Homo sapiens: one gene and its partners. The protein of the gene in region 2 purifies or fractionates together with the protein of the main gene of each other region. This does not show direct contact. Each region holds a gene or a part of one and is shown on either strand. Other genes may lie near its edges.

What was found.
Region 1: the proteins of NPTN (region 2) and EXOC7 purify together in Homo sapiens (co-immunoprecipitation; 2 studies listed by BioGRID and IntAct, with this or other methods). This does not show direct contact.
Region 3: the proteins of NPTN (region 2) and ATP2B4 purify together in Homo sapiens (co-immunoprecipitation; 3 studies listed by BioGRID and IntAct, with this or other methods). This does not show direct contact.
Region 4: the proteins of NPTN (region 2) and GNPAT purify together in Homo sapiens (co-immunoprecipitation; 2 studies listed by BioGRID and IntAct, with this or other methods). This does not show direct contact.

Annotation. Positions count from the first base shown.
Region 1 is NC_000017.11:76,093,781-76,100,804, forward strand, and holds part of EXOC7 (exocyst complex component 7), read right to left. Parts: intron 4,297-7,024; exon of another isoform or gene 4,239-4,296; coding exon 4,016-4,238; intron 802-4,015; coding exon 634-801; intron 1-633. UniProt on the Homo sapiens protein: Component of the exocyst complex involved in the docking of exocytic vesicles with fusion sites on the plasma membrane.
Region 2 is NC_000015.10:73,623,380-73,630,403, forward strand, and holds part of NPTN (neuroplastin isoform b precursor), read right to left. Parts: intron 1-7,024. UniProt on the Homo sapiens protein: Probable homophilic and heterophilic cell adhesion molecule involved in long term potentiation at hippocampal excitatory synapses through activation of p38MAPK. May also regulate neurite outgrowth by activating the FGFR1 signaling pathway.
Region 3 is NC_000001.11:203,629,812-203,636,835, reverse strand, and holds part of ATP2B4 (plasma membrane calcium-transporting ATPase 4), read right to left. Parts: intron 1-7,024. UniProt on the Homo sapiens protein: Calcium/calmodulin-regulated and magnesium-dependent enzyme that catalyzes the hydrolysis of ATP coupled with the transport of calcium out of the cell. By regulating sperm cell calcium homeostasis, may play a role in sperm motility.
Region 4 is NC_000001.11:231,236,453-231,244,232, reverse strand, and holds the start of GNPAT (dihydroxyacetone phosphate acyltransferase), read right to left. Parts: upstream 3,022-7,780; 5' UTR 2,855-3,021; coding exon 2,777-2,854; intron 1-2,776. Other genes in the region: FSAF1 (40S small subunit processome assembly factor 1), read left to right, coding at 3,092-3,209, 5,045-5,376. UniProt on the Homo sapiens protein: Dihydroxyacetonephosphate acyltransferase catalyzing the first step in the biosynthesis of plasmalogens, a subset of phospholipids that differ from other glycerolipids by having an alkyl chain attached through a vinyl ether linkage at the sn-1 position of the glycerol backbone, and which unique physical properties have an impact on various aspects of cell signaling and membrane biology.

The DNA of each region.
Region 1 (7,024 bases), on a different chromosome or scaffold from region 2:
GGGAGAAAGAACAGACAGATGACGAGATGTTCACCCAGGACAGCAACACCCACCGGCCCCGGCCTCTCATCATGGTGCCCCTTTCCACAAGTCACTCGCTCGCACTGGAGCCCAAAGCCAGTTTAAGTTCTTCCGAGAGGATGCTCTGGGGTTTCTTTCCTTTCTGGATCAACTGGGAAAGTGAAATTCTCCCCATCCAGCTCTCAGCTACACGTCACTTCAGATCACCCTGCCTTTCTGGAAGGTGAAGGTTGGAGCACCTATCCCCTTGCTATCCCAGCATCCTGGCTGCAGTAGTGTGCCTGGCCTTCTGACAGGGCGACGTGTGTGTGAGGGAGGAGGCCTAGGCAGGGGCTCTGCCTCAGGCGGGATTCGCTGAGCACCTGTGTTACTCCCCTACTCCAAAGAAGCTGTGTAACCCCAGGCTCTGCTAGCTGGAAGGAAGAGTCTTGCTCTTGGGGGGCTTCACTGGGTGGGTAGACACTTGCTTTCTGTCCTGTGTACCTACAGTCGGGGTTACCACGACGACAAGCTCTGGAGGGGCCTGACGCTGCGAACGCTAGATTGGACTAAAGCAGTACAGTCCCAGTCAGCCTCTGGCTGTTGCAGAGATGGGCCAGGATGGGGGCTCACCTGGCCGCTTGACTGGCTTCTTGGTAGGTGTGTCTTTCCTCTTGTTGGGGATAGCAGGGGAGTAGGGAACCCCAGAGGAAGAACTGCTCTTATGGAAATGCTCCTTCAGTCCTTTGATGGAGCGGTCCAGCTGGCTGGAGCGTATCTGGTAGTAGACGTTCATGAAATCTGAGGAGACACAGAGGGATAGAGGTACGGCTGCCAGGCCCTGTCTCTGCCTTGCAGACCCACCATGTCTACCTGTCAAACCTGTCAACCCTTCTTAGCATCTGCTCCCTGCTCTGGTCACAAGCCACCCATATCTTGTCCCAAATCAGGCAAAGTCTTTCAAAGTCTTTTTTTTTTTTTTTGAGATAGGGTCTTGCTCTGTTGCCCAGGCTGCAGTGCAGTGGCACGATGTCAGCTCACTGCAGGCTCGACCTCCTGGGCTCAAGTAATCTGACCACTTCAGCCTCCCAGAGTGCTGGGATTACAGGCGTGAGTCACCATGCCTGGCCAGGCAGTCTTAAAAGAGAAAAACACCCTCTGATAGAACTGATAATTAGTTGTAAGTTGTTTTTTTTTTGAGACAAGGTCTTACTCTGTCGCCCAGGCTGGAGTGCAGTGGTGTGATCTTGGCTCACCGCAAACTCTGCCTCCCAGGCTCAACCAATTATCTTGCCTCAGACTCTTGAATAGCTGGGATTACAGGCATGAGCCACTACCACCCAGCTAATTTTTGTATTTTTAGTAGAGATGGGGTTTCACCATGTTGGCCAGGCTGGTTTTGAACTCCTGACCTCAAATGATTCACCAGCTTCAGCCTCCCAAAGTGCTGGGATTACAGGCATGAGCCACCGCCCAGCCCTAGTTGTAAGCTTTTTTTTTTTTTTGAGACAGAGTTTCATTCTTGTCATCCAGGCTGGAATACAATGGCACGATCTTGGCTCACTGCAACCTCTGCCTCCCGGGTTAAAGTGATTCTCCCGCCTCAGCCTCCCAAGTAGCTGGGATTACAGGCATGAGCCATGGCGCCCAGCCCTAGTTGTAAGTTTTAAATAGTACTTTTTTTTAAATAAAAAAACAAAGTTAATATCCAGATTCAACTTGGTAAGGGGTCAAAGAACATGAGCTCTATAGGAAGCAAAAAGACAACAAATGTCAGTGAATGAAAAACACACATCTTTAGCCATTAATAAAGTATAAATTAAAAAAATTAGAGGACTGTGATAGTCCTATCAGATAGCAAAAACAAAAATTAATGAAGAACAAATGGCCATGGAACTGTCGATGAGTCCATCGATTGGCCTGATCTATTTAGAGAGGAGCTAGTGATGGCAAGAAGGTTACAAGTATCTTCAGACACTTACACCTAATCCCTGCACCCTTGAGAATAAACCCTCAAGAACTTCCTCAAAGAAAAAAGCAATTCACAAAGGTATGTCCATTTTGGTACCATTCATCAATGCTGAAAAACAGGAAGAGCTCCTTGCACACATGACTGAGGAAAAGGACATGAAAACTATGGTGGATTTCAGAAGTTCCCAACAAATAGTTTACAAGGAACCCCGACAGAAGAAATGAACCAAAACACAGAGGCACAGGCTGAGAGGTCTGGAGGCTGTCCACTGCGCCTCCCTCTTGATCCTAAGGAGCTCCTGAAAATCTTCTGCCGAGCTGTCATCAGCTCACGAGCCACAACGTGTTCATGTGATCAGATACATCGCGGCCGTGAGACCTGCCGCCACACAGTTCTGGGGCAAGGCAAGCCCGCGCTGACAACTTGGTATGTGTACACACAAACAAAGAGAAGAGTTGGAGGGCTAAAAAGTGCAACATTGCCAGGCGAGGTGGCTCATGCCTGCAATCCCAGAACTTACAGAGGCCGAGGCAGGTGGATCACCTGAGGTCAGGAGTTCAAAACCAGCCTGGGCAACATGGTGAAACCCTGTCCCTACCAAAAAATACAAAAATTAGCTGGGCATGGTGGCGGGCACCTGTAACCCCAGCTACTTGGGAGGCTGAGGCAGAATTGCTTGAACCCAGGAGGCAGAGGTTGCGGTGAGCCAATATCATGCCACTGCACTCCAGCGTGGGTGACAGAGCGAGACTCTGTCTCAAAAAAAAAAAAAAAAAAAAAAGTGCAACACTGAATATCTATTGGAGTTTTTCTTTCTTCCTTTCTTTTTTTTGAGATGGAGTTTTGCTCTTGTTGCCCAGGCTGGAGCGCAATAGTGCACTCTCACTGTAACCTCTCGGGTTCAAGAGATTCTCTTGCCTCAGCCTCAGTAATAGCTGGGATTACAGGCATGCGCCACCACGCCCAGCTAATTTTGTATTTTTAGTAGAGATGGGGTTTCTCTATGTTGGTCAGGCTGGTCTTGAACTTCTGACCTCAGGTGATCCGCCCACCTTGGCCCCCCAAAGTGCTGGGATTACAGGCATGAGCCACTGCACCTGGCCTTCTTTCTTTTGAGACAAGAGTCTCACTTTGTCAACCAGGCTGGAGTACAGTGGCGTGATCTTAGCTCATTGCAACCTCCACCTCCCAGGCTCAAGTCATTCCCCGCCACCTCAGCCTCCCAAGTAGCTGGCTCTGCAGGCATGCGTCACCACACCCAGCTAATTTTTTTATTTTTTGTAGAGACAGGGTTTTGCCATGTTGGCCAGGTCTCGAACTCCTGAGCTGAAGCGATCCACTCACCTCAGCCTCCCAAACTGTTAGGATTACAGGCATAGCCACAGCACCTGGCATAAATAAACCTTAATAGTGCTCATCTTTGGCTTATGTAATGGAGGCATCAGGGAATGGGAGATGGACTTTTACTTTTCACCCATGGCTTTGAAAATTTTACAACTAATCAAAAAAGGCAAAGGAACATAAAAATCAAGACAAGAAAAGTTTGAATTTGCCTAGATTCACCACTTGATATACAAGTCATAGAATGGTTGCTTATATTCTTATATTGGTTCCAGTTAAACATCCTTTTATCAAAAAAACCATGACAGGTGGATTAAAGAATAAAGGGGGCCAGGCATGGTGGCTCACATCTGTAATCCCAGCACTTTGGGAGGCTGAGGTGGGCAGATCACCTGAGGTCAGAAGTTCAAGACCAGCCTGGCCAACATGGTGAAACCCCATCTCTACTAACAATACAAAACTTAGCCAGGCATGGTGGCATGCGCCAGTAATCCCAGCTACTCGGGAGGCTGAGGCAGGAGAATCGCTGGAACCCGGGTATGCAGAGGCTGCAGCAAGCCGAGTTGCACCATTGCACTCCAGCATGGGCAACAGAGCAAGACTCCATCTCAAAAAAAAAAAAAAAAAAAAAAAAAAAAGAACAAAGGGGAGAAAACTCCCTCTGCCTCTGGTGTGTCATGTGGCCAAGCCAGAATCCCTTACCTTGGTTGCGGCCATATTCCACCAGCCAGCGGGAGATGCGAATGACATCCTGGAGCACGCTCTCGGGCAGGTGCTCCAGGGTCACGTCCTCCTGGGCCTCCAGATCATCGTCACCACTGATCAGATCCAAGATGAGCACGGGCGAGACGACCTTACTGTGCCGCGTCATCAGGCTGCGAAATTCGGACTCCAGGGCCTCCTTCCCGCGCTCAAAGAGCAGTTTCTGCACAGACAACAGAAGGAAGCAGGTGCCTGCTGCTTCAGTGTTCTGCCAGTCCTGGCCTTCCCCTGCCTGTGCCAGCTCTGTCTTCTTAACTCAGGGCCTCTGCCCTTTTCTGCCCTGATATCTTTTTTTTTTTTGAGAGGGAGTCTCGCTCTGTCACCAGGCTGGAGTGCAGTGACACAATCTTGGCTCACTGCAACCTCCGACTTCCTGGTTCAAGCAATTCTCCTGCCTCAGCCTCCTGAGCAGCTGGGATTACAGGCACGTGCCACCATGCCCAGATAATTTTTGTATTTTTAGTAGAGACGGGGTTTCACCATGTTGGCAGGATGGTCTTGATCTCCTGACCTCAGGTGATCCACCCGCCTCAGCCTCCCAAAGTGCTGGGATTACAGGCATGAGCCACTGCACCTGGCCTGCCCTGATATCCTTTAACCCAAAGAAGAAACGCTGGGAAGCGGCCTTGGTGACTCCTTTACTTCATGTTCTCTCAAAATTTGTGTTTACAGGTAAAACCCAGGGTTTTACAAGAAGTAGGTGCTTAATAAATACTGGCTGATTGGCCGTGCACGGTGGCTCACGCCTGTAATCCCAGCACTTTGGGAGGCCGAGGCGGGCAGATCACAAGGTCAGGAGATCGAGACCATCCTGGCTAACAAGGTGAAACTCCATCTCTACTAAAAATACAAAAAAAAAAATTAGCCGGGCGTGGTGGTGGGCACCTGTAGTCCCAGCTACTCGGGAGGCTGAGGCAGGAGAAAGGTGTGAACCCAGGAGGCGGAGCTTGCAGTGAGCCAAGATTGCGTCACTGCACTCCAGCCTGGGTAACAGAGTGAGACTCCGTCTCAAAAAAAAAAAAAAAAAAATACTGGCCGATTATTTTCTCACTGAACCGTTAATTTGTCTTCTTGTTAGTGGGGGGTTTGCAAAAGAAAATAAATAAATAAATTGAACAATATCAAGTTGAAAACTTTTGTGCTGCAAATGATACCACCAACAAAGTGAGGATAACCCACAGAATGAGAGAAAATATTTGTAAACTATGTATCTGATAAAAGACAGGTATCCCAAACATAAAAGAGAATGAATCTGTCCACACGATGACATATATAAGAGGGTTTATAGCAGCATTATTCACAAGAGACAAAAATTGGAAACAACCCAAGTGTCCATCAAAGGATAAATGGCTAAAGAAAATGTGGTCTGGCTGGGCACGGTGGCTTACGCCTGTAATCCCAGCACTTTGGGAGGCCGAGGCAAGCAGATCACCTGAGGTCAGGAGTTCAAGACCAGCCTGGCCAACATGGTGAAACCCCGTTTCTACTAAAAATACAAAAAATTAGCTCGGTGTGGTGGCAGGCACCTATAATCCCAGCTACTCGGGAGGCTGGGACAGGAGAATCGCTTGAACCCAGGAGGTGGAGGTTGCAGTGAGCCAAGATTGCGCCATTGTACTCCAGCCCGGGCAACAAGAGCATAACTCCGTCTCAAAAAACAAAACAAAACAAAAAACCAAAAAAAGAAACTGTGGTCTATCCACAAAAAGGAATATCATATGGCATGAAAATGAAATGAAGTACTGATACATGCTATAGCATGGATTGATCTTGAAAGCATCACGCTAAGTGAAAGAGGCCAGTCACAAAAGGCCATGTATTATAAGATACCATTTATATTAGAAATTCAGAATAGGCAAATCCATAAAGACAGAAAATAGATTTGTGATTTCCAGAGGCCAAGTCACCATCTTGCTCTGATGATCTAATGACCCCAAAACTTAAACACAAAAATATGATGAAGGCAGGTACAGTGGGTAATGCCCGTAATCCCTCCCAACACTTTGAGAGGCCAAGGTGGGAGGATCACCTGAGGACAGTAGTTTGAGACCAGCCTGAACAACACAGGAGACCTCATCTCTACAAAAAATTTAAAACTTAGCTGGGTATGGTTGCACATGCCTGTGGGCCCAGCTACTTGGAAGGCTGAGGTGGGAAGACTGCCTGAGCCCAGGAGTTCGAGGCTGCAGTAGCTATGGTTGTACCACTGCAGTCTGGCCTAGATGACAAAGCCAGATCCTGTCTCTTAAGATAATAATGCAAAAAAAAAAATCACATAGATTCAAGTTCCTAGAGTAGATTCACAGAAACAGAAAGTGGAATGGTGGTTACCAGAAGACAGAGGAAGGGAGAATGGGAAATTAGTGTTTGATGGGAGTGGAGTTTCACTTGGAGAAGATGAACATATTTGTGGAGATAATGGTGATGGCTACATAACATTGTGAATCTACTTAATGCCACTGTTAACTTAGAGTTAAAATAGCACATTTTGGCCAGGCACGGTGGCTCACACCTGTAATCCCAGCACCTTGGGAGCTGAGGCGGGCGGATCACCTGAGGTCAGAAGTTTGTGACCAAACTGGCTAACATGGTGAAATCCCGTTTCTACTAAAACTACAAAAAAAAAAAAAAATTAGCCGAGAGTGGTGGCGCACACCCTCCCAGCTACTCAGGAGGCTGAGGCAGGGGAATCACTTGAACCTCGGAGGCAGAGGTTGCAGTGAGCCGAGATCGTGCCATTGCACTCCAGCTTGGGAAACAAGAGCAAAACTCCATCTCAAAAAAAAAAAAAATTTATATTATGTATTTTTAACCAAAATAAAGGAACAACAAATGCATTTATAAAAATCAAACGTGGCTGGGTGCAATGGCTCACGCCTGTAATCCCAGGCCAAGGCGGGGGATCATCTGAGGTCAGGAGTTCGAGACCAGTCTGGCCAACATGGCGAA
Region 2 (7,024 bases):
TCTGATCTTTAAAAACTTCTGGCTGGCAGGGGGGCTGTGGCTCATGCCTGTAATCCCAGCACTTTGGGAGGCACAGGCAGGAGGATCACTTTAGTCCAGGAGTTTGAGACCAGCCTGGGCAACATAGGGAGACCTCATCTCCACAAAAAATTCAAAAATTAGCCAGGCATGGAGGTATGCGCCTGTGGTCCCAGCTACTTGGAAAGCTGAGGCAGGAGGATCACCTGAGCCTGGAAGGTTGATGCTGCAGTGAGTAATGATCACGCCACTGCATTCCAGCCTAGGCAACAGAGTGAGACCCTGTTTCAAAACAAAACAAACAACAGAAAAACACACTAACTTTTGAAAAGTCCATTTCATTTCATATTCATTTCCATATTTTTCTCTCATTGAGCTTCTAAACAAGCACAGTACTATGTAAGAAAGAGATCATTTCTGTTTTTGAGTACCCTCTCAACCAGCTCTTTGTCCTACTTATAATGGTTCTGACGATGAGTGCAAATAACTCTATTCTTCCGCTAGTTTCATTAAAATCATCTTAATACTAAACCTATGCTTTCTTCCCTGTGCTCTAGGCCATTGCTCTTTGATACAGCCCATCCATCTTTGGAGACTGCCTAATTCCCTTACTTCATTTACACTGCTACCTTGAAAGTATTAATAGATAATCACATCCCCCTAGTGCTCCCTGTTCCTAAGTTTAGCTCCTTCAGGCTTTTCTCCTAAATCTTAAGCTACCATCAACATAGATTCTATGTCTCTTCCAAAATGTGGTTAGAAAGTATTCTTATTTGGAGTTCAATCCTAGTAGAAAACAGTAATGCTGTTAGGTTAGCACCATACTTTTGATACGTGATCACTATGTTATTTGTGTAAGGGTAATTCAATGACAGTTCACTGCAAGCTATTTGAAACCTCTTTATACTTGCTTTTTTCCAGGTAGCAGTTTCCTGGTTTGCATTAAGGCCATTTATTTCATCTCCCTTGATGCACGATTTGAGATTCAGCATTAATGAATATAATTTCAATGCTGGAGCTCCTTGTGCTATTTTTTTCCAGTTGTTCGGCAATGATTCCCAAACCTGCTAAACTCGTATAATCAAAAAAATCCCAAGTTAAATTTAACACATTCCTTCAATCTATGAATTTAGAAGTTTTTCACAGATAGTTGCCAACAAAGGAGGACATCTTGTTGCCTTTTTTTCCTCCAGGAAGCAGTGTCTAAAAACTAGGAAATAATCCCACTACTCTAGGATCTTAAACATGAACGGCAGATGATTCTTTAGTGATGGTTCTGCTTACCCTCTCTCTCTCTTCCCTTGGCCAGTATTCAAGTCAATCTGTACTCAACAGAAATGTGCCTCAGACTACAGCAACCAAGTAAAGCATTTGGCTTAGAATAAACATTAGTACTCCCAGCCCTGCAAACTCAAAGGCTCAGGAATAAGGAACACAAGGTCTAATTTAAAAGGAAGGTCAACTGAATATACTGGAAAAGTTATGTCTTGATTATATTCAAATTACTGTGGCTTCCCCTTTTTCTAAAGTTCTAAAAGGAAAAAAAATCGCTATATATAATGGCTAATGTATAAATCCAAAATGTTTTATTTTCTTTACTCATAATGACTAATAACAGTATATGCTGATATTACTGATAAATGTCTAGTGAAAATCCTTGTGTTAACAAAAATCATAATTATTCCAGACTAACATGGCATGTAAAAAATAAACAAAAGCCCCAAACTACTCCATACCTGAAAATGCTGTTTTTCAAACTGAGTTTCACGGCCCATGAATTGTGAATTCAATTTAGAAGGTCACTATGGTTCTCTTAACTACCTCACACAGATTAATAATAGGTAATGTTTCACAAGATATTACATATTTGTGTAATTTTGTTATAAATTTCTATTAGTCAAAAACTACTTCTCTATCTGGGTCACAGACAAAAAAGTTTGAAAGCCTTTTTCTAAAGAGCTTTTTTTTTTTGAGACGGAGTCTGGCCCTGTCACCCAGGCTGGAGTGCAGTGGCATGTTCTCGGCTCCCGGGTTCACGCCATTCTCCTGCCTCAGCCCCGAGTAGCTGGGACTACAGGTGCCGGCGACCACCCCTGGCTGATTTTTTGTATTTTTGGTAGAGATGGGGTTTCACCGTGTTAGCCAGGATGGTCTCGATCTCCTGACCTCGTGATCCGCCCACCGCAGCCTCCCAAAGTGCTGGGATTACAGGAGTGAGCCACCGCGTCCGGCCAAGAGCTTTATTTTTCAAGTAATTTCAACATGATTACATGTGAACCAAATATTATCTTTTACTCATATAAACTAACCCCTACTGACTACATTTCAGGTCCTAGAAAATTCTAGTTTGCAATGTAATTTTTAGGTTATTTTTAAATTAATAAGTAGCAAGGGTGTAGCTGAAACTAGATGATGAATACACAGGGGTTTATTCATTACTTAATCTATTTTTGTACATGTTTGAAATTCTAAAGATCTAAAAGAAAAAAAGGAAAAGAAATGGACCTAACAGATAACAAAGTAGTACCATGAATGTTTACAACTTGAGACCTTTAAACACAATGTTTCTAAGGAATAACAATCAAGGAACTTGCTAGGATTTAATTCAGTTAACACTTGGGGTTGCCTTCTTCGACTATAATGGACGGATTTCCAGGTCTTAAAAAATGCATAAGGGACTGCAGAAACTAACTCATATATAGAAAACAAACTTTCTCGAAAGATAACATAAAAATACAAATAGTTAAGTGTGTTTCATTGTCTCTTTATTAGTCAACCACTTTCAGCCAACAGAAAGATCATAAAATACCTACCTACCTGGCAGGAATATTCACTTCTTTATTCACACTGGCAATTTTCCCAGCAAGTTTAATATAAGATCTCTGCATAACAGACACGGTTCTGCCTCCCTTGAAACAAGAACTGCAAGGGTTGTCTGAAGTAGATTTAGAGGCATTTAGATTTCAAAACAGTGCATGCCTCAAAGTTAATTTTCATTATATTCAAAAGTAAGTTTCTAAAAACTTTTAAACAGAAAGTGTTATCATCTCTGAGCCTTTAACCTATTGGAGACAGTATCTAAGCTATAAGGGCAAGATATTTAGTAATTTTTAGAACTGAAAGGAAATTTAGACATCATCTAGTCCAATGGTTTCCAAATCCTACCATCAGGAAGAAAAGAATCTCAAAGGCATAACAATTTATATATGCAAAACAAACTCTTACTTGTGTGTTTTCCTGTATCTTCCTGCACATGAAATACTATGCCTTATTAGTATTCTATCAGGAAAGGATGTGACATTTCGTTATGCATTTTATATTTAATCACATTTAGTATGTGAGTATCCATTTAGATATGATTAAAACTATTGGTACGATTTGGGACTTAATGCTTTCTAATTATAGAAACTTACATAATATATCCAACCCTAATACTTTCAGAGTGATTTCATACCATCTCATTTATATTTCACTGTCTAGTAAATTTGAAGTAATACCTGGGTGACCGATGATTTTTAATAAGGCAAGAGAAGGATATCCAAATTGGCATATTTCAGCCGGGCACAGTGGCTCACACCTGTAATCACAGCACTTTGGGAGGCCGAGGTGGGCAGATCACCTAAGGTCAGGAGTTCGAGATCAGCCTGGCCAACATGGCGAAACTCCATTTCTACTAAAAATCCAAAAATTAGCTGAGTATGGTGGCTGGCGCCTGTAATCCCAGCTACTCAGGAAGCTGAGGCAGGGAGAATTGCTTGAACCCAGAAGGTGGAGGTTGCAGTGAGCTGAGATCATGCCACTGCACTCCAGCCTGGGCAACAGAGCAAGACTCCATCTTTAAAAAAAAATTGACATATTTCTGGAAAATACCATAAAGTATATCATAAAGCTCCAGTAGTTAAGATTATTTGGTAGGAAGGCTAGTCTTAAAACATTCCATAATTGTTTCAGAAATGCAAGAGAATACCATTTAGTGCTTTTTAGTACAAGAAACTCAATACAAAATGTTTCCCTCGAGCTGACTACATTCTATTTTAATGAACAGATAACACTCAGTTTATTTATTTGAAAAACAAGAAACACAACAAGAAAACAGCAGGTATCTGAGGAATATTAAATGTCTCCCCTAACTTACTGTGTGCAAGTAAATTTACATACGTAGGAAATTCTTTAAATATTTAGAAAACCCCATTTCTATACAGATAGACAAAAGTTCTGAGCAATCAGGTCAAAATAATCTCAAATTAATAAGAGTTGATTGATAAATGTTTGCCTTTGTACATACACAAAAGCAAACAAAAGTTAGGCCTACTTTCAGTTTCAGACAATATAATAAATTGAAATTAAATACAAATTTTGACTCTCCTTCCTAAACTGAATAGATCCTTAAAAAGCAGATATATTTTACTTGTGTATTCACTCTTTTAAATTTAGACATCAATATCACTAGAATAATGTTTTTACACAAGATCACTTTTAAATTCAGTAAGAAGTTTTGTTATGTATATAAGCCTAAAATATGTAACCATTTATAACCAATTAATTTTACTGGAGGGGTTTCCTGTCTTCCCGAAGTTAATCCTTACCAACTAAAATTAGGAATTTTGAAAAAAAAAATCCATAAAAATTTCACAAACAAGCTTACAAATGCATTATCTAAGGTGCTTAAAATTAAACTCCATATTATGAACAACATTTTAAAAATTTGTATAAAATGATAATGTTTTGTTTAAAGAGGCATACTGAAAGCTAAGCCAATTTTTCACAGGAGGTGATTCTCCAACATTATTTTAACTTTGATGTGTGAATTTACTTTAGAGGTCCCTGGTCTATTTACTCTTTCTGACAGCTTATATTTTTCCGGATGCTCCTCAAACAAAGATTCATTCCTCATTCTTGCATCCTGCTTTTCTCCTTGTACTACTGCAGCCTTTCTTCTGTCTTTCCCTTTCTCTTACAACTTCATTCTCTACTTCTGATCCTGTCCAGATTGTACTCTCACTGCAAACAGTAAATTGAATAGAATACATCAGAACGATTTTCATAAAATTCACTTTTCCAAAACTACTCTGCATAATTTTATTCAAACTTTTGTTGAACATCTCTTGTATGGTATCCAACATGGTCACTCACTGTTTCTCTACATACTTCATTTTAATAGATATTAGCACTTTATCTCCTTCCCGAATCGTTGTAAAAAACCTTTACACAGACCCAGCAAGTTTCAGAGTTTACACACAAAACATCTTACTTTTAAAAAGTACCTCAGACTAATGAAAAACAATGTTCAAACTGACAGAGCACTTTTCTAATTACATTTGGTCATCTTTCAAGGCCCAATTAAATCTTTTTTTAATTTAAATAATTATTTTTATTTAAACTTTATTTTAAAGTTAAAATAAAGATAATATAATGTTGCTTTTTATTAATGTCTAAAGGCATATTCCACAAAAGAAACTGTTTCACATCAAATCTGTATTAATGAGAAAAAACAATGGGATTCCCTTAAAACAGTCTAATTTCTCATAAGGATCTGTATTAATCAAGCGAAGTCAGACCTGTAATGAATTCCAACCTCACATCTAAGGGGTTTTATTTCCTTTTGTGGTTTTAAATCTTGGTATATTCACAAGTTAAGCTCTACTGCGTCTGGCAACACAAAAACCCATCTGTATCTCTTTCTAATTTGGATCCAGTAACCTTGTAAAACAAACCCAGGGAATGGGTCCTGATGTAGTAACATGGCCTATCCTCCCAGACCGAACCAATTTCTCATGCCTGGGTGCTGCATTATATCAGTAGTGACATTTTAGCCAGTAGCCTGAGAGACTGAAAGCCTGTGATCTCCTTAGGAAGGGCTTTATGTCAAGGCAAACTATTTCTTCTGGTCAAATCTTATTTGGATTATTTCAAAATTTTTTGCTTGACATTCGGCATGTCATTTGTGCCACAGCTGCCATAGATAAGATGTGTCTTCTGTTGCTCATTTCAGTTCAAAGAGGAAACACGCAATCAATTAGCAAATACACCTCTAAAAATGTACTCAGTGAGAGAAAATTGCTAAACCACTGAAGCAAACAGCCCTTGACAGAAAAGAAAAAGATCCATGAATCATCTAATGCAAATACTGGCATTATTACAAAGCACAATGTTCACAACTATCTAGTATCACCCAAACAAAATGGTTTCTAAAATTTAGGTCGTTAAAAATAAGATTCATTAGATTCCTTATTTTCCTCCATTGAACAGTGTTAATTTTGTGATGTCATATTTTCCATATGAATATATTACGTTTTTACACACCACTCCACATTCATTAATTCAGCTAACATCTATAACACTCCCACTGTGTGCCGGGTACCACACTCTATTTCTCTTATTCACAACAATAATACTCTATGAGAAAGTGATACCTGGCCCACTTGAAAGATTTGGTTCACAGAAAAAAAAGAAAAAAAAAAGCCATAAAGTCTCTCCCAGAAACTCAAATAAAAATATTAACTTCCTCACCAGAATTGGCAATTGCAGACACAGTGCAGCTGGTCACTTTTCTGAGAAAGTTACATAAGCAAAAGCACAAATCTCTATGTGGGGCCTTCAAATGGCCTATTTACCATGACAGCAGCATTAACAATCAAGTTTTCAATATACACATGAAGAAAAATAAATAAAAAATAATGCTCCTTTTTAAAGGATAGTAGTAATAGCTAACATGTACTGAGACTCAGGCTGAAATCTAAGCGGTCATTATCTCATTTAATCCTCACATCATCCCTAGGGAATGGACATGATTGTAATCTCCACTTTACAGATGATGAACTGATGAAACTGAAGTTTGCATTACTCAAGATCACTCAGCTACTGACAGCTGGAACTCAAACCTGAGTCTGTCACCGTCCAAAGCCTGCACTCTTGATCATCACATTATACTGCTTTGTTTACACTCACTCAATTGCAGTCTAATGCTTTTGAATGTCTTATAAGGTTACTTTTTAGAACAAGTTCC
Region 3 (7,024 bases), on a different chromosome or scaffold from region 2:
GCTAGACTCTATCTGTGATAAAAGAGTTTGGTTTGGGCATTGAGAGTTTTACTCCTTTGTCTTCTATAGAAGAGGAGGGTCTTGAATCAGGAATGTCTGTATGTCCAAACTTGGTTTCATGTAACAGTGCAGTTGATGAAGGCCCAGAGATATCCCCTGCTTCAATCAAGGTTACACAGCAGACAAGAGTCCAGATTACCAGTTTTCTGACTCCCAGTCCCGTGCTCTTCTGGCAAGCCTGGCAGCCCACTAGAACAAACTCCTCCCTGTCTGCCCCCTTCCAACTTCCTGGCTCCCGCTCTTTCAGGCTCCCTCACCAACACAGAAGGGGAATTGACTAAAGGATTAATAGCCGTCACCTACATGAGCCTACGTAAAAAGAGCCCTGAGTCATGTAGGGCCTAGCCCCAGGGTTTCCAGGAGAAGAGAGGGAGAAAAAGAGAGAGAGAAGCCATCCTGGAAACTCAATCTCTCTCCAGAGCGACGATCAGGATGGGGAGGCGGGGGTGGGTAGCACAATGATTTGGGTCAATGACAGGACAGCCAGGTGTGCTGCCCTTGCCAAGGGAGTGCCTAGAAGGCCTTGCTTAGCTCAGGCATGAAGGCTCCAGGCAGGCACTGCTTGCTGGTTTCTTTCAGAATCACCTAATTAGAGAATTCTAAGGGACACTAAAGGTTTGGTCAGCAACAATCTCTGGGCTGTTTGGTGAATTTCTTCTCTTACAGCCTGGGACCTGTCTCCTCAAAAGTTAGGTGGGTGACTCTGGAAGCCCTCAGTCCCCAGGTTCCCTCAGCTGGCCCCATGGCATGGTGGGAGAATGCCTGTCATCCTACCTCCCTTTGTGGCCCACTCATCAGGGCCCAGGTGCTCCTGTCTGGACAGGAGAGGCTGTGGGTGGGGAGCAGTGAGGGTGGGAAGGTAGGCTTCCTAAAGGACCTTACTTTCTTAGAAGATCCCTCTGTGTGCTCCATGGGGACTCTCAGCACCCAAGAGCTTAGAAAAGACACTCCTATTGGTCAGGAGTTTTGCAGATAAAGTGAGAAGAAACCAGGAATCTAGGAGTGCCTCTGGCATGGACTTCTCTCTCTGGCTAAGTATTTGGAAAAATTTCAAACCTGAAAGGTTGAAAAAAATAGCACAATAAACAACTGCAGACCCTTTACTTAGTTTCACCTTTTTTTTTTGAGACAGGGTCTCACTCTGTCAACAGGCTGGAGTATAGTTTCATGATCACGGCTCACTGCAGCCTCAAGTTATCCTCCTGCCTCAGCCTGCTGAGTAGCTAGGACTACAGACAGGTGCACAGCCTCCATGCCCAGCTAATTTTTTATTTTGTAGAGGTGGAGTCTTCCTATGTCATCCATCTCTACAAAAAAACAAAACAACAATAACAACAAAAAAATTAGCCAGCCATGGTGGCATGCACCTGCTCCAGTTACTTGGGAGGCTGAGGTCGGAGGATTGCTTGAACCTGGGAGTTTGAGGCTGCAGTGAGCTATGACTGCACCACTGCACCCCAGTCTGGGTGACAGAACAAGGCCCTGTTTCAAAAATAAATGGGGGCTGAGTGTGATAGCTCAAACCTGCAATCCCAGCACTTTGGGAGGCTGAGGAGGGTGGATCACCTGAGGTTGGGAGTTTGAGACCAGCCTGACCAACATGGAGAAACCTCGTCTCTACTAAAAATACAAAATTAGCCGGGTGTAGTGGTACATGCCTGTAATCCCAGCTACTCAGGAGGCTGAGGCAGGAGAATCGTTTGAAATCAGGAGGCGGAGGTTGCGGTGAGCTGAGTTTGCAGCATTGCACTCCAGCCTGGGCAACAAGAGCAAAACTCCATCTCAAAAAATAATAAATAAATAAATAAATGGGGCCGGGTGCGGTGGTTCATGCCTGTAATCCCCGCACTTTGGGAAGCTGAAGCAGGTGGATTGCTTGAGCCCAGGATTTCGAGCCCAATCTGGACAACACGGTGAAACCCCGTCTCTACAAAAAATATGAAAATTAGCCAGGCATGATAGCATGCGCCTGTAGTCCTAGGTACTTGGGAGGCTGAGGTGGGAGGATAGCTTGAGCCCAGGAGATCAAGGCTGCTGTGAGTTGTGATTGTGCCACTGCACTCCAGCTGGATGATAAAGCAAGACCCGGTCTCAAAAACAAACAAACAAACAAAGAGATGCATTTCTGTTGCTTAAGCCACCCAGTCTATGATGTTGTTTTAGCAGCCCAAACTAAGATATGCTAAGACCAATCTTTCACCCAGTGGTTTTAGTATCCATTAAACGCTAGACTAAATCAGCTATTATAGTAGAGGCTGCAAACTGGTCAATTTAAAGTTCCAGTCTGGCACTGTGTCTCACCCATTATCCTGGTGCTTTGGGAGGCTGAGGCAAGAGGATCGCTTGAGCCTAGGAGTTCAAGGCTATGGGCCACTGCACTCCAACATGGCTGACAGAGTGAGACCCTATCTCTAAAAATAGGTAGGTAAATAAAGATAATGTTGGCTAAAAGATGCAAAGTTTCAGTAGACAGAAGGAATGTTTCTGAGATTTACTGCACTACATGGTGACTATAGTTAATGTAATGCATGTTTCAGAATTGCTAAGAGAGATTTTAAATGTTTACACTACAAAAACAACGATAAATGTGTGAGGTGATGGATATGTTGATAGTTTGACTTAATCGTTCCGTAATGTATGCATATATCAAAACATCACATTACACCCCATACATATATGAAACTAGTATTTTTCTATTAAAATTAAATTTAAAAAAATTTTTTTTGAGACGGAGTTTCACTCTTCTTGCCCAGGCTGGAGTGCAATAGTGTGATCTTGGCTCACTGCAACCTCCGCCTCCCAGGTTCAAGCGATTCTCCTGCCTCAGCCTCCCGAGTAGCTGGGATTATAGGCATGCACTACCACGCCCGGCTAATTTTGTATTTTTAGTAGAGACGGGGTTTCTCCATATTGGTCAGGCTAGTCTAAAACTCCCGACCTCAGGTGATCTACCCACCTCAGCCTCACATAAAATTAAATTTAAAGAAAAATCTTGTCATTACTACTAGATTTTATTAGTTGGCATTTACTTTATTTATTTATTTATTTATTTATTTATTTATCTGATATGGAGTCTCGCTCTGTCTCCCACTGGAAGTGCAGTGGCACAATCTTGGCTTACTGCAACCTCTGCCTCCTGAGTTCAATCGATTTCCGGCTAATTTTTATATTTTTAGTAGAGACAGGGTTTCACCATGTTGGCCAGGCTGGTCTCAAACTCCTGACCTCAAGTAATCCACCTGCCTGGGCTTCCCAAAGTGCTGGGATTACAGGTATGAGCCACTGCGCCCAACTGGCATTTACTTTTTAATTTTTTGAGACTGAGTCTTGCTTTATCACCCATTCTAGAGTGCAGTGTCATGATCAGAGCTCATGGGAGCCTCAAACGCCTGGGCTCCAGCGATCCTCCTGCCCTGGCCTCCCAGTGTGGTAGGATTACAGAGTGAGGCCTTGTGTCTGGCCTCGTTGGCATTTCTGTTCAGAGTTTTCCCTCCCTGCTCCTCCCTGTCCATGTCAACTGTCAAAATAGACTCAAGGAATTTTTAATATTCAATGTGTTACAATCTATTACCATTATCCTTTGGAATGCTTAATGTGTTTCACCTCTGGTTGGCGGGAGACCCTTTAAGCCAGCTCCTGTGACAACATGTCATGACATGAGCATGCTCTAGTTTCTGGCACAACACAGTTCACTTATACTTTCCCAGTCTCAGACTTGAAATTAGTCATTTTTTCAAGGAGCACTGTTCCTTACAACCTCCCCCGTGGGAAGTTGTACTTAGAAATAAAAATCCAGGTACTAGGTGTGTTCCTTTCCACAGTCCTTTCAGTGGACAGACCCACAAGATATACAAAAAAACCCCGAAAGATTCTTTTTCCCCTTCCCCCATTCCATACTTATATCTCTCTTTTTCCATAGTGAGACCCTGATTTCCAGAAATATCACCATAGTTACTCATTTCATCTATCATACAATAAACGAAACAGTTTCCAATTTATGACACAAATACCACAACCAATAACATGTCTACAAAGTAAAGGTCAAGATTTCTTTGTAGGTGGTTTTTTTTTTTTTTTTTACTTAAAATATGAATATAGAATCAGGGAATGAAGGTTAAAAAGTACTTAAATTAGGCCAGGCGTGGTGGCTCACGCCTGTAATCCCAGCACTTTGGGAGGCTGAGGTGGGCGGATCATGAGGTCGGGAGATCGAAACCATCCTGGCTAACATGGTGAAACCCTGTCTCTACTAAAAATACAAAAAATTAGCCGGGCGTGGTGGCAGGCGCCTGTAGTCCCAGCTACTCAGGAAGATAAGGCAGGAGAATGGCGTGAACCCGGGCGGCAGAGCTTGCAGTGAGCCGAGATCCCACCACCGCACTCCAGCCTGGGCAACAGAGCGAGACTCTGTCTCAAAAAAAAAAAAATTTCTTACTTCTCCTGCTTTCTTATCCCAAAGGTGGCATACTATATACTGTACTATGTCTTGGTTTTTTCACTTAATAATATATCCTAACAATCATGTCATATAAGTTCACAGGGCTCCTAGTCATTCTTTTTTTTTTCTTTTTGGCTACCTAGGATTCTATTGTATGGACTGTACCATTGTTTGTTTAACCATTTTTTAAAGAATGGGCATTTGGATAGTTTCCAATGATTTCCTATTGTAAATATGCCTTTAAAAACCACCTTGTGGCTGGGCTTGGTGGCTCACACCTATAATCCCAGCTCAGGCAGGTAGATTGCCTGAGCTCAGGAGTTTGAGACCAGCCTGGGCAACACGGTGAAACCCCATCTCTATTAAAATACAAAAAATTAGCCGGTGTGGTGGCTAGCACTTGTAATCCCAGCTACTCACGAGGCTGAGACAGGAGAATTGCTTGAACCCGGAAGGCAGAGCTTACAGTGAGCTGAGATCGCGCCGCTGCACTCCAGCCTGGGCGACAGAGCGAGACTCTGTCTCAAAAAACAAACAAACAAACAAACAAAAATCACCTTGTACGTAGCTTTCCATATTTGTGAATGAGCACCTTCTGGATAAATTCCTAGACGTAGGATTGCTGGGTAAATGTGTACGTAGCTTTGTTAGATATTGCTAACTTCCCGGGCTCAATACTAACAGCCCGTCTTACCCCTGGGACTCCCAGCGCCCAGCACGGAGCCTGGGATGTTAGATGGGCTGTTAGTATTGAGGGTATACTACTTGTTTGTATTCCTGGCATTGATTTCGCAACCTAGGTAGACCTTGCCATGAGGTGTTCTAAGCTAAGACTTTCCTTGAACCTAGCTGAGAGTCCCTGACCTTCCTACCAATAAACGCACTGCTCCAAACTCCCTTTGCCACACCCCAAGTGAAGTGGCAGAAAGGCAAGAGGAAGGGGGTCTTAGTAATCCCATCCCAGTTCATCTTCCCTGAGTTGTCCCAGGGATTTGTGCATGAAACTTGGGAAACTAGAGCAGAGGTGAGTAATGAGGCTGAGGATCTTAGGCAGAGAGGAACTGGGGTGAGGAAAGGTAGAAATGGGGGCTCTGCCCCTTGGCACCTATGTTCTCAATCCTTTCCTTTCCTTTGGCCTCTCCACTATCCTTCACACATAGACTGCCTCTCAAGCCTCTTCCCTGACCCAGAGCCCTTGGCTCTGGTCCTCACTAGATCCTGCCTGGTTTCCCTCCTCAACTCAAGTTCATGTAGGCTGAACACAGAGGACTGGCTTAAGGTAGAGGCAGAAATAGAAAGTCCCTGTCATTTCTGTTTTAACATGTACAGAGGAAATAAGTCAGTGGAACAAGAATGGCTCACACAAGGGAAAGAGGAAAGAGGACACAAGGAGAGATACTGGCAGAGGAAGCCAAGGGCAAAACATTCCACACAAGCATTTTGGACTCCAGCCCCAGGGCCTGCTCTAATCCTATGACCTGCAGAAAAGGGGACATGAGTGGAGAAAGGTTGTCATCCCAGTCTGACAAGGCAGAGGCCTTGCTTTTCTCATCCCTCTTTCCTTCTCACCCCTACCCACCAAATACCCACTGGGATGACAGGAATCAATGCTTATCTGAGAAGCAGGGAACTGGGCTGGGTAGGGAGCCTTGTCTGAGGGGCGCCCTTCGGGGGAAGAATTCAGATTGCCTGAAGAATCCTTCCAGAGAAGGATAGTTAAGACTCTGGGTGGGGTGTTCCCCTTCAAGGTCAAACACTTGGAGCTAATCTAACCTAAGCCAAACAGTTTTTTAGGGGTTTGGCTAACGGGGTTTGTCTTGGTCATTCTGGGGACTAAGAATGAACAAGATCCTTTTCTCTCTCCAAGGCTTAGTGGGTCTGCAATGCTCTGTCCTAGTGGATAGGGCTAATCCATGTCTTTGGGTGCTGGGTCCAAGGCCAGGAGCATTGAAAAAAAAAAAAAAAAAAGAGAGAGAGAGAGAGAGAGAGAAAAGGGGTTTCGGAGTTTTTGAGAGAAGCTAAATTCTTGAATAAGGGGCAGTTTCCGGTGGAAGGCTTGACCTGCTGACAGGTGGCAGGGAGCAGCCCAGACCCCGTTCCTCTCGGGACCTCCGGTTAGTGGGAGTGGGGAAGAGTAAAGCCTCCCGATATCCTGGCCCAGGACATCCAGCCCCTACACATCACCTTACCTCTTCCAGCCCCCACACCTTCGGCAAATTCTAACTGCTCTCCTTCTGCCCCTAACTGGGCCCTCTCATTTTGATTTTCTTCTGACAAAGACCACAGCAGTGTGACAAATCTGCCTAGCCACGCCCTGTCACCTCTACCGTGGAGAGCAGGCTTTCCATTGTGCAGAGGGGAAACTGGAGGCCAGACGGCGGGTTAGGAACTCGCTGGCGTCAGGCTGATTCCAAGGCCCCCAAACTGCCCGTGCTTCTCTCAACATGCCTTGACCCAGCGCTCTAACATCCCAGGCTCCGTGCTGGGCGCTGGGAGTCCCAGGGGTAAGACGGGCTGTGCTCCTTT
Region 4 (7,780 bases), on a different chromosome or scaffold from region 2:
TATACAGATAATCACACCAGAAACCTATAGTCTTCTCAGACTTTCAAAAATATAAATGTACTTTGGAAGGCCAAGGCAGGTGGATCACTTGAGACCGGGAGTTCGACACCAGCCTGGCCGACATGGTGAAACCCCGACTCTACTAAAAATACAAAAATTAGCCGGGTGTGGTGGCAGGCAACTGTAATCCCAGCTACTTGGGATGCTGAGACAGGAGAATCTCTTGAACCCTGGAGGTGGAGGTTGCAGTGAGCCAAGATTGTGCCATTACACTCCAGCCTGGGTGACAGAGTGAGACACCATGTCAAAAAAAAAATACATATACACACATATATTTATATATATATGTGTATACACACACACACACATAGATGTAAGATTAAAATCTCCCATAAAGTTAAGATTTTATCCCTAAGGATATGTAAACACGACACATAAAATTTCTTTAGGAAATATCTGCCTACTTCCTTACTTTGTTTCTCATGTCTCCTTTCTTCCACCCAAATCTAACTAATTCTAACCCCAAATATGCAAGGGAGTAGTTTTTTTTACATCAACATCTAGGACAGTTTTCCTCTCCCTCATCTGCCATTCACAGCTCAAAAACTCAGCTCATGCCAGGCACAGTGGCTCATGCCTGTAATTCCAGCACTTTGGGAGGTGAGTAGATCACTTGAGGTCAGGAGTTCAAGACCGGCCTGGCCAACACGGTGAGACCTTGTCTTTACTAAAAATACAAACATTAGCAGGGCGGGGTGGCGTGTGCCTAAAATCCCAGCTACTCGGGAGGCTGAGGCAGGAGAATCGCTTGAGCCCCGGAGATGGAGGTTGCAGTGAACCAAGATCGAGCCACTGTTCTCCAGCCTGGCAACAGAGCAAGGCTGTCTCCAAAACAAAACAAAAACAAAAACAAAAACAAAAAAGGAAGATCAGCTTAGATATCACCTTTTCTTAGAAACCTTCTCCAAGTTCCCAAACTGGTCAGGTGCCCCTTCTTGTCTCTCCCACAACACGCTGTGCATGCTTCAATCATTGCCCTTACCATACTTAACTGTGATTGTTTGTTTACTTTTATGACTTTTTGTGCCCTTAAAGGCAGAGCCTGCATCTGTAACTTCTATATCTTGGAAACTGAGAATAATGAGTAGGATACTGTATATATTCCTAATGTTTGCTGCAATCAGCAGTATCTTCTACGCTTCTAAAGTGCTACTTTTAGATCAGAATATTACACAATAACAGCGTAGCTGGGGAAATAAAAACAGCCTGAAGTACTAAGAAAAAGTAAGGTTACCGTGGAAGTAAAGGTTATCCAGTCACAAAACAGTAGTGAGAACTACCAGTAAAGAGTGGGTTGCTGTCCAGCATCAGAACTACAGAATGCTCAGATACAACTGCCATAGTTTTTCACATGAAAAAGTGGACTCAAGTCTTATTAAAGAACCGTTGGTAAAGGGGAAGTAAAACAAACAAACAAACAAACAAAACCAACTCCTTCCTTTAATGTACAAAAGGAAAATTCCAACCAATTCACAAACCAGTTGGGAGCTTAAAAAGCTACATGTTAAAAGCTGGATCTGCACAGCAACCCTCTTCCCTTCGTGCCTGCTCTGGAGTAGCAGAGTCAGAAAACAAAGTTGATATCCACCACAGAACTGTGGGGAAGATAAGATCAATGAAGAGATATATCTAAATAATAAGGCTTATAGGCAGTTAGCAATCAGAAACCGAAAGGTCTTGATAGAGAGGGAACAGAAGTTTCTCCATGTTCCAAAGAATATTGGTGTCTCAATTTGAAGGAACCCATATATTCTCTTTCAAAACTGGGGTGTTTATCTTGCTCTGCTGTGTTATCCCTGTTTTGACCTTTCTGCACAAATGAACACTACATTTAAGCCAAAATTGGACAGTAATCACCAGGATATGCTAATATGCTTTTAAAATGAATTCTTTCATTTTCTCCTAAAGTAGCTAAAAACTAATTTAGTGGTTAAAAACAACAAGAAACAAACAAAAACCAAACCAGTTGCCCCAGGTCTGTGCAATCCTGAAGGCTATAAAGCTCCCATCTCATAATTTCTTCATGAAAATCGTGGGTGACCAACATCTGCCAGCCAAAAAGACCCGTTAAAACCAAGAGAGGAAGAGGGGGTTGGAGGAAAAAAAGACAAGCGGGAGAGAAGCTGGGTGGCGCTGGCTGTCCTCCAAAATGATTTGTGGAAAAGGTACAATAATGACTGGAAGACAAGAACAGGCAATAAAAATGTCTAGAAGTTCTAAATTTTCCTGAAGTGTTTAAAACTCTATTCCCACATACAAGCCAAGTGCTCTACTCCCAGGAATATAACAGCAGCATAGGGCGGGGTGCGGAGCCACAGGCTATCTCAGGGCGGGTCAAACCCGCAAGTTTCTCAGGTTTGCCCAAAAGGTAGCTCGACATGCCCTCGCTAGAGATGGGGAGACTCCAATTCTCATTCCTCATTCTCGTGTCCAGGAGCTTTCTGAAGGCCCCAGGGCCTGATAGAAAGAAAGAGAAGGAAAAAGTGGAAAGGAACCAAAGGAACCATAATCCGTAGAAACTTCCAAAAGCATGCACACACAGACACACAGCGATACACTGTTGTCCTGGAAACCAATCCAACCAACTAACCCCTCCTCGGGAGCCTAGGGGCCAGCTCTTTTGGGCAAGGGTGGTGGGCCGGAGGAATAGGGACTGGGAGAAAGGGGTACTATTTCGCGCGGCTCCGCTCTGGGCCTCTTTTCCCTGGGCGCCTACCGAGTAGAGGAGCACGACAGCGCTGGGACTGGTTGGGCCAACGGAGAAATAAGAGTTAGATGAACTGGAAGACTCCATGGTGCGGCTGCCTTCCCGGGCGGGGTCTGGGATTCTTTGCTAAGCCGTGGTGGTGCTCCTGCTGGGGGCGGTTCTTTCGCTCAGGACGGCCCTACTTCGCCTAGGGCGGCGGCACCCTCTGCAGCCGCTACACAGGATCCCGGGCGCCGCCATCTCAGCCAGGACGGAAGCCGCGCAGGGCCCTGCAGCGCATGCGCGCAGTCGCGGAACCCGGAAGCGGGGGTGCAGCGCGGCAGAATGAGGGTTGATTCCTCGGCTGACCCCACAATGTCGCAGGAGCAAGGGCCGGGGTCCTCCACGCCTCCCAGTTCTCCGACACTTCTTGACGCTCTGCTCCAGAACCTTTACGACTTTGGTGAGTGCGGGGTCCCAGGAGCCCACGTGGAGAACAGATTTGAGGAACGTGGGTCTCCTGTGTTGCCCGTCCTGGGTTGGCCTCTGCTTTGAGGCTAAAGGTTCTTGCATGTCAAGCACCCTTCGTCCCACCTGGTTCCAGTAGCGAACACATTTCTCCATCGGAAGTCACCCCTCGACCGGGCTCTGCTGAGTTATTCATCAAACCTTCCAACTCGTCCCCAAGTGTGGGGACCATCCTACTTGCTTGTAGGAAGCACCAAGGCTTTCCGATTTAAAAGTAGCCCGCTTTTCCACGTTTTCTTGAGCCCTGGGAAGTCCCCTTTCCCCATGCCACCCCCAAGACCTGCCTGACCCTGGTGCGATGGTGTCATTTCGCTCTGGGGCCTCGGGCCTGTTGGATAATACACCAGCTTCATCCTTGTGTGTCCCTCTCCAGAGACATCATAGTCCTTGGCGAGTTGTCCTTTTCACGACTTTTTTTTTTTTAAACAAGTGCGCTGATCTTTTACTCTCCGTTCTTTGTCTTGATGGGGGAAAAGGAAAATAAAAGAGCCTATTAAAGTCGCATGGCATGTCAGTAGGAAGACAGTGCCTCATACTCTGAAGAGCTTTCCCGGGAGAAGGTGACACCCTTTGCACATGCACCAAAGAAAATCATTAGATTTCAGGACAACACACATTTCTTAAATTTACAGCGTGATATTTTAAAAGCTATTTTTATTTTGGAATGACTGCTCAAAATTCTAAGTTCACCTAAACAGTAGGAATAATAGTTAAAACTGTTGAGAACTTGCCATATAGCACATGCTTTTCGTGTATTTGCTCATTTAATTTTCAACTTCATGAAATAGACACTGTCATAAATCCATGATTGCAGATGTAGAAACAAGTACTAGAAGTTCATGAAACCTGATGCAGGTTGTCTGACTGGTAATTTTTGCAGAGCCTGGGTTCTGATTCTAGCCCCAGACCCCATGCTTGTATTAACTAGCATTTCTGTGCCCTTGGACATATTGGAGGACAGAGAAGACTTAGTCTCTGACCTTGAGAAGTTTAAAATCTAGAGGAAAAGACTATTCTGCAAAATAATATAGTTCATGTCAACACAGGCTGGAAATCATGGTAGGAGCTCTGAAGGCATTGAATGTGTCTATTCATTTTTATATCCTTAATGCCAAAGTTTAGTTGGCTCTTAAATGTTTATTGTATAAAAGATTAAGCAAATAGTAGCAAGCATAAATCAGCAGCTGGTAATTTAGAGAGCTCTGTGGTATTTGTAATACATGTGAGTAAGGATGCCTAGGATTCTGGTTAGAACTTTCAGGTGACTGGTCAGAGCTTCAACAAGTGAAATATAGAAAGAGGAATTAATAGAAAACAAAGGCATTCAAATTGAGCCAGTTGTCTTAGGTTCATCTTAATTCCTAACTGTGAAAGAAAATAGGAAGACTATTCCATGTTCCTGTAACCCAGAAAGTGTTAAAAAGAAACAGTGGCTGCAGTGCCTGATATTTTTAGTATAAAGCCAATTGGGATTACCAGCCCTGGGGACTATTGCTGTGATGACACTTTGAGTAGGAACCAAAGTGGAGACTAAAGTGATTGTGCTAATAAGGGTCAAAGACATAGTTACCTAGGAAAAGATGACTACATTTTGGATTCTCTGCATTTTGCAAATACACTTATTTGAAAGAAAACAAATAGTTTATTTCTTTGTGTGTGCTTCTAGGTGCATATAGCCCTGGAATATGTACAAATACATTCGTAGGATTTGATACTGATGATAGCTAAGACTGAAAATATTTATTTTCCTTCTTGTGTTTGAACAAACAGGAGGTACAGAAGGTGAAACAGAACAGAAGAAGATCATAAAGAAAAGGGAAAACAAGAAGAGAGATGTGATGGCTTCAGCGGCCTTGGCAGCAGAGCCATCTCCCCTACCTGGTTCTCTCATAAGAGGCCAGAGGAAGAGCGCTTCGAGCTTCTTCAAGGAACTTAGAGAAGAGCGGCATTGTGCTCCTTCTGGGACCCCCACAGGACCAGAGATCCTTGCTGCTGCAGTTCCTCCCTCTTCCCTAAAGAACAATAGGGAACAAGTAGAAGTGGTAGAATTTCACAGCAATAAAAAAAGAAAATTGACGCCAGATCATAACAAGAACACAAAGGTAATGAGTTGGTTAGCTTATATATACGTGGTGAACCCCCTGGTATTGTAGTATTAGGTGAATAGCTCTTTAGACTGTGGCAGGAATGCCTGACTATCCTCAGGCCTGCAGATTTGCCAAAAGGACTCACAGGACCCAAGACTCAGCATATAGCCCTTATCAGTCATGTAGGCCTACAGACTGACCTTAGTTATTCAAGTTCTAGACCTCCAGTGAAAAGCAGGTATTCACCATCAATCACATTGCTAGTATAAACTGTCTGGGAAAACTTGGTACAGCAGTGGCTCAAGACCTCAGGTATGCAAAAACACTCTGATCAGGCAGAATATTCTAATTGCTCAATTCTCAGGAGGCAGCCAACTGCCAGTCATGAAAATAGGACTTTCTTGGGAATGTGCAGGGTTTGGTAAACACAGGCCTGCTGAGTTAACTCTTACAGCAACTCTTTCTGGCATTCCTGTTATGTGCTAGCCACAGTTGTAGGCACTGGGATATAGCAGTGAACCAAATGTATAGAAATTCTTGCTCTCGAGGAAAAGCAATGCTGGTGGAAAAGCAATTTGATTTTTCTGAGCAGTAATCTTTTTCAGAGTGAGCTTGTAAATCTCACCTAAAATTCAGTCCCCAAGGGAGGTGTGGTTGCTCCTCCAAATGTTTTTAATTTTTTTTTTTTTTGAGACGGAGTCTCGTTCTGTTGCCCAGGCTGGAGTGCAGTGGCACGATCTTAGCTCATTGCAAGCTCCACCTCCCAGGTTCATGCCATTCTTCTGCCTCAGCCTCCCAAGTAACTGGGACTACAGGTGCCTGCCACCACGCCTGGCTAGTTTTTTGTATTTTTAGTAGAGTCAGGGTTTCACCATGTTAGCCAGGATGGTCTTGATCTCCCGACCTCGTGATCTGCCCGCCTTGGCTTCCCCAAATGCTGGGACTACAGGCGTGAGCCACTGCGCCTGGCCCCAAATGTTTTTAATTTATCTATTCACAAGAATATCATAATGGCTTTGACAAATTCATTGCTATTCCATTTCTGTAACATCCCCCACGTCCTGCAAACCTTTGTCTATCAACAAAGAAGTGAGGATTGAACGTATTAGTTTCTAAGCCTGCTATAACAAATTACCACAAACATGGTGACTTAAACCAACAGAAATGTATTCTCTTACAGTTCCGTAGTCCAGAAGTCCAAAATCAAAGTGTTGGCAGGGCCATGCTCCCTCTGAGGGCTTTGGGGGAGAATCCTTTGCCTCTGACCAGAAGGTAGCTCTAACAGTTTCCTTGGCTTGTGGTTGCATAACTATAATCTCTGCCTCCGTCTTAATGTGGTTTTCATCCCTGTGTCCCTGAGTCTCATGTTTCCCTCTGCCTTCCTCTTTGCTTTAGGCCCACCCTGAATCTGGGATGATCTCCTTTTGAGATGTTTAATTATAAAGATCCCTCTCCAAGTAAGATCACATTCACAGGTTCTGAAGAGGAGTAGGACATGGCCATATGTTTTTAGAGGCCACAATTCTACCCACTACGAAGATGGTTTGGCTTGCATTGTTCTTTATGAATGTATAAATGTATGTTAGTGTCCAGTGTTTGCCACATCTTTATGGTTTTAAAAACCATCTGTATAATCTTTTCTAAAATTCAGGTAGCATTTCATATCAAGCTTGCTGGCATCTCTTCCTCAAAGATCGTTAGCGCATTCTGCAGGCTGAGCGTGGTGGCTCACGCCAGTAATCCGAGCACTTTGGGATGCCAAGGCCAGAGGATTGCTTGACTTCAGGAAGTCGAGACTGCAGTGGGCTGTGATTGTGTCACTGCACTCCAGCGGGGGTGACAGAGCGAGACCCTTTCTCCAAAAAAAAAAAAAAAGATTATTAGTGAATCTGTAACCATGTCTACCTTTATTTTAGGATTCTAGATAAGCTTCTTAACTCTTATGTTCCAAATATAAGGCTCTGGGAACTGTTACGGGAGGGTCAAGAAATGGATTCCCTTGGTGTTTGGGGCAACCAGAGCCCCGAAGCTGGCCATCTCCCAGTACCCCAGTGTACCCTACAAATACTGGTATTTTCTGTATGTGTCATGATATGAAAAATGTTGGTGAGCACTGCTTTGCAATATAATTCAGCATTTGAAGACTTCAACTAACATAAAGCATTTAGGCACCCTTTCTTGTTTCTTCAAATGTCTCAGACTTCAGTTTCCTCTTATATTCCCTCATGTTCTTTTTTCTGGAATGGAAAGTTTTCTTTTTAATAGAAAAGACAGAAGAGTTGGGATTGAATGAGTCTGCATTTCCCTGTTGCTTAATAATAGAACATCTGTGGCAGTCTGTCAAATTGTCTTTTGCTTCCCGTTCCAAGCGAGCCCTGATGCATTCTAGTTGGCTCTTCTCAGGAGCCTCAGCTCACTC